2 separate regions of the Homo sapiens genome follow, and region 2 is linked to region 1. The links come from fine-mapping of genetic effects on gene expression. A gene starts in region 1. The other region holds a variant in brackets. All regions are shown on one strand. Distances are from middle to middle. Region 1 holds the start of ERICH2 (glutamate rich 2). Region 2 overlaps MYO3B (myosin IIIB).

The links.
Region 2: its variant is fine-mapped to the expression of ERICH2 in tibial artery (GTEx, PIP above 0.99). The same link has a PIP of 0.9 or more in aorta and coronary artery.

The regions. Positions count from the first base shown.
Region 1 is chr2:170,768,871-170,771,782 of GRCh38, reverse strand. It overlaps ERICH2 (glutamate rich 2), which reads right to left and starts at 1,405. Exons shown (of 10, transcript NM_001290030.2): 1 at 596-1,405. The coding sequence starts at 1,101. It overlaps ERICH2-DT (ERICH2 divergent transcript), which reads left to right and starts at 1,017. Exons shown (of 6, transcript NR_110185.1): 1 at 1,017-1,081. RefSeq lists silencers at 308-447, 768-827.
Region 2 is chr2:170,376,062-170,378,973 of GRCh38, reverse strand. The region is part of intron 9 of MYO3B (myosin IIIB); the gene reads right to left. Among named protein-coding and RNA genes, the nearest start is that of MYO3B-AS1, 27 kb to the right of the region's middle. The variant G/C (reference allele first, on the strand shown) is at 1,249.

The DNA of each region.
Region 1 (2,912 bases):
TCAACATTTTGGAAGTTTCAAGTCAATTTCATCATCTCATAAGATGAGAATAAGGCCCGGGAATATAAATGATTTGTCCAAATTCCATCGAAATTTGTATGGCTAGCAAGTTATATCTAGCTAGTAGTGATGTCTTAACTAATTTTCCAAAAATAAGTAAAAGAATTCCGGGCAAGGGCAAGGACTGAGGGAAGGGGGTCGGGAAGCCCTGGGATGGGCTGGGCCATCTTCGTTATTTGCGGGGAAGGAGTTGGTGCGTGTGCACCGGCCGGTCAAAGAATGGTAGTGTAGACAAGCCTGTCAGAATCGCCCAGTTATCTCCACACCCGTGTAGACACGAACGGCGCTTCCTCACCTCTTCCGACCACTGCGGGAGGAGGGTGCCGCAAGCCAGGCGCACCCCAGTGGCGCGCATCCTCCCTTCCCGGCGGCCCCTGGCAGCCACGGGGCCCGGGGCCCAGAGCCAGAACCAGGTGCGGTAGAGCGGTCCGCAGACTCGGGCGCCCGGTCTGGGGGTGGTCTGCTGTGGGGGCTGGGTCAGACTGCACACCGGGCTAGGGAGAGGGAGACCGGTCGTTGCCTCGGAGTGTCTTACCAGCTGGCGGCCCTCTTCAGCAGACCATCCGAAGGGCACACACCGAGAGCCAGCCCGGCTAGCTGCTCGCGCGGAGCTGGGGGCTCCGAGTCGGGAACGCAGCGTCGCCGTGGAGACTGCACGGCGCGTGGAGGAAGCTCGGGCAGCAGCCGAGGGTGGGGGCTGGGGGAATTGGGCGACGGCGGGGGAGGTGGCGGGGGCGGGGGCGGGGGCAGGGGCAGCCCGGGGAACCACGGAGAGGCAGGGTGGAGGCGGGCCCAGGCCGTAGGGCGGTGGAGGGCGCGGGACGGAGCGGGCGCGGCGAGGAGGGCCCGGGGCGGGGCTGGGAGGCGGGTCCGGGGGGGCGGGGCGGGGCGGGCGGCCGAGCTGAGGGACAGCCCCGCGGTTGTGGGTGTCCCGCGGCGCCGGAAACTGGGCGCACACACCCTCGGATTGACGTGCGCACGCGCACCGGTTACCTTCAGGAGCGCCGAAGAAGGAAAGAAGGTTGGAATGTCGGTGTCCATACCTGATTCTAAGCGAGGGAGAGGGAAGGGGGCGGGGTGGCCTCAGAGTTTTAAACTTGGGGAGTAAAAAGAAGTCTTGAGTTGGGAGAGATGGGTGTCCCTGGTAGTGGATGAACAAGTGTCCCCTGCAGGACTTAGTCCCCCAACCTGAGGTCGCCCCAAGAAGATTATGGGTCTCCGGGGGGAGTCCCTGGACGCCAGTTTTCCCAGAAGTCAGATTCAAGTGATTAGAACCAGAGACCCGGCTCTCCCCCAGCTAGAGCAGCCCAGGTTCCCTCTAGCGCCAGAGCTGCTGCTCTGCCACGCCGGCCAATGGGAGGTATTAGTGTTTAAGTAACTGCTTGGGTCACAGTAGGGGGTGGGGAGCTTTTCTGTTACAGAATTCTAAAGGTCCCTCAAGCTTGGCTTCTAGGAAGGAATTGGTTATTTTTCTCCACTTGGGATGCCGGAAGTAACTAGAATCAATTTGTTGCTAGGCAACGTGTTTTGAAGGACGCGTGTTTGTTGGACTCAAATCTGGATTCGACTTTCACATGGTAGACACATAATATCAGGTGTACTCCCTATTTAATCTCTGGAGTTGCTACCCGCTGAGGATATGTACCTTGGTAGATGGTTGTGAAGCTAAAATGACATAAAAATGTATAAAGCTCTGACATGTGGAAGATGCTTAATAAATAACAAATTTTATTATTATTATAATAAAAATAGAACCAGCTGGACCATTTCCGGAACCAAGAGAATACAGAGACGTGGCCATTTTTTAATTCTCTTAGTCATCTGTTCACATTCATTCTTTAAATCTCCTGTGAGCCCTTGATGATAGGTAGGAGGCAAAGGAAAAATGCCAGAATGGAAGTTTTTGAAAAGAACTCAATGGAGTCATTGACAAATACATCCCTAGTTTGATAAGGACATAGCAGGCCACTGCCTCCTCTATTACAGGAACACCCTTACATAGAAAATGTCTTGTTTGATTGAGGACTTTTCATTTAAACAAGGCCAAGGGTATGTCTTGATCAACACATTTGAAAACATTAGTTTTGTTGAATTTGCTTAGTACTGATGAATGGATAATGGCTGACTGGTTATTCCCATTGATCCACTACAAGGAAGTGTAAGAAAACCTCAAATTTGATTAAACTTTCTTTCTCTACCTATTCTTCCCCCTGACAGAAAAGCTCAAGTTCATTTGTAGGATGCAGTGTTTAGTTTACTTACTGCTCCTGAAGGGAGCAAAAATGGATTAATGGGCTGGGCACGGTGGCTCACACTTGTAATCCCAGCACTTTTTTTTTTGAGACGGAGTCTCCCTCTGTCCCCCAGGCTGGAGTGCAGTGGCGCGATCACGGCTCACTGCAAGTTCCGCCTCCCGGGTTCACGCCATTGTCCTGCCTCAGCCTCCCGAGTAGCTGGAACTACAGGCGCCCGCCACCATGCCTGGCTAATTTTTTTGTATTTTTAGTAGAGACGAGGTTTCACCGTGTTAGCCAGGATGGTTTCGATCTCCTGACCTCGTGATCCGCCCGCCTCGGACTCCCAAAGTGCTGGGATTACAGGCGTGAGCCACCGCACCTGGCAATCCCAGCACTTTGGGAGGCCGAGGTGTGCGGATCGCTTGAGCTCAGGTGTTTCAGACCAGCTTGGGCAACATGGCGAAACGCTGTCTCCACAAAAAAATATAAAAAATTAACTGGGCATAGTGGCACGGGTGCGGTGGGGTAAGGGGGGGTCGAAGCTGTAGTGAGCCTTGATTGTGCCACTGCATTCTAGCCTGGGCGACAAAGTGAGACCCTGTATTAAAAAAAAAA
Region 2 (2,912 bases), 390 kb after region 1:
AGCTATCTTAAGACTCTGAGAAGTAAATTGTAACAGGCAGACTGGGGAAGGAAGTCAGAACTCAAAATACCACTGAACCAATGGTGAGTTTTCCAGGCTTTTTTTTCCTTCAGTAACTCCTGACCTGGATTTAATGGCAGCCTGAGCTGCATACAGAAATGCCAAGCTTCACATTGGATGACATTTTTATAGCCAACTAAAAATGGAAGCATGGACCAAACCTTACTTGCAATCTCACAAATAGATGCAGTCTAGTAGAAAGTTTTAATTTTCAGTGTGAATATACACAATGCAATATCACTAGGATCAACATTGGTATCTTCTGAGCCTGAAGGAGATTGTGTGCTATGCCAATCTGTCTCACAGATATAACTTCCAAGAATCATGCAGATGTTGTCTGCAAATCTGAGCTTGATTCTTGTAAAAAATCTTCCCCAATAATATTGTATTAACAAAAAATAACTTTTTAAAAATTTTAACTGCTATTAGTAGCAATGTGTGGCCTCTTTCCATGCTTACAGGTGATCAAATTCTTTAGAAATATTTGCTCCTAAAAGTGAAGTAGGCAATCTAGAAGTGGATGTAGATGCAAGACTTCTCTACTCTGATAAAGACCACTTCGTTTTCTCAACCAGAAAAAATATATATATGTGTAGCACTATTTCTGCCTTCCACAACTAGTGTTCTTTGGAAACTGCTGCCCGCTTAACTTTCCTCCTCTGGCTATGGGGTTTGGAGGGTCTATCGTAGAGAAAAAGCATTATTTATTTCAATTTTTATCTCCTTTAAAAACATTTTCCTAGACTTTGCATAAGCTTATAAAAAGCGTTACGTTGTTTTATATTTCTCTATTTTTAGTTGAAATTAATAAAAATAAACTTGGTTTATTTTTTTAATTTTATTGAGTTAAGTGATTTGTGTCATTAGTAACTATAGATCTTAATTTCCTTTAAATTCACATGCTCCATCTAGTGCCCTACTTGAGAATAGGACCTATTATCAATTTTTGCTGAAGAATTCCTCGTTTAATGTGAAAATTACAGATCTCCAACTAAAAGCTACTTGGATCGAGTATTCCAAAGCTCAGAGGAATGGAGACATAGATAAATGAATGGATAAACAGCAAAAAACATTCTACTAAATCAAAAGTATGTGGTAAGGCACTGTAGTTTTAATGGCTCAGAAGACGTTTTCAAATTCCAGTAAAGTTTATATTGCTTTTCTTAGATTTCCTACTTGTTTTTATGA[G/C]TTTGTAAGTATGTTGGCTGCCAAGGCTGGCTTCTCAGACAAACAGAGTTTGCGAGTTGGAGCTTAGAGGGAAAGTCTTGGCTTGGACTGGTTCCTGGAGTTTGCTTTTGGTGTGGCAGTGGAGCGGGAGACTGTGGAGAGCAGGACGGGCCTTAGGTTTCAGGGATCAGGTAAAGGGGAAACTGGTGCCTGAATCCATGGATCAAGTAGGGTGGGAATGAGGGCAAGTCTGTACCATCAAGTCCAAGGAAATGAGTGCAGCGTAAGAATAGAATCTGAAGAACGGGAAAGACAGAGCCAGAGGTAGAGGCTGGGAGTTCCCCTAAGACAACAGTGGGCATAGATGAGGTAGAGGATGGGGGTCTTTGTTCAAATCTTTGGCCCAGCCAATGAGTGGGAAAGGAGCTTTAGAGGACACCAAACTGGTTTAAACACTAGAAGAATTATTCTCATGAAATAAACTCCTAAAGTGTTGCAGCTTTCACTCTAGTTTAATCTCTGTATCTGCATTATGGTTAAAACCATTTCTGTGTCATTGTTCTCTAATATCTCATCACTGGGCCTGCTAGCTTCTTTGTTTGAGCTGCTAGTCCTATGAACTATATTGACAAACATATTTTGCCCAAAAGTGACTCATTAATCAATTAGCCTCTTTCTGTCTGCCAGTTATGCCTATGGAAGTGGAGGCTTCCATGTAGGTAGGTACAAACAGAGCTGCAAGAACTTCACGTAGGTGAGACAGGATACGCTCTTCCTTTCACTCCCCAACTATGATGAAGAACAAGTAATAGAAAAAGGTGCTCTAAATCATAACTCAAACATGAGAAGGAAACAAATTCTTCTAGCTTATCAATTCAGCCTAATAATAATAACAACAAGCAATATACTCCTAAGAAGTTAATCTCTGCACTGAGAAATGCCTGCTGGCTTCTTAGAGAGTCACCCTGTGTCAGCACCATTGTGAAGGTCACCTCTGCCTCTGCTCCTCCACACCCAGGATAAGAACCCTCTCCTCCGTCCAAGAGTGGAACTGCAAAAAGTGGAGAATGACTATCACTGTTACCAGATTCCAGATGGAAAAGGAAGTAAAATTTGTTGCGGATAGAGGCAAAAAAAAAAATAGAGAGAGGGAATAAGGAAAAAGGTGCAGGCTCAAAGATGTCAGTCCTCAAGAATCTAGGACAAAAGCCTCCATGGCCATAGAGAGAACTCAGGGATCACTCCCTTATCACTACATTCAATGGATTCCATACAAGAAAGAAAACATTACTCAAAACTGAGAATAGAGTACTGTTACTACACCAAGGTCAGTGATGTTGAATATTTCTTCTAAATCTTAATTTCCATTCAATATACCCTTTGATAACAGAGCCAATGAAAGAGGGACTTTTATTTTACCGTAACTATATAATAATGGACCTCAAACGAGAAAAACAATAGCAGACCTTTGAGGAATGACATTATTCTACTGAGAGTCAAATATGGACAGAGATAGCAGCTGGATACCTTTAACTACATGAGCTGTATCTTGACCCTGAACTTAAGGCTATGTCTTTCAAACAATACAATGCATAAATTTTAAAATAGGAGAATTGTTTGGGTGGAAATTATTATAGTATCTGCCCATTTTTCATCTAAGCACCGTTTTGGCCAGAATCCCAATA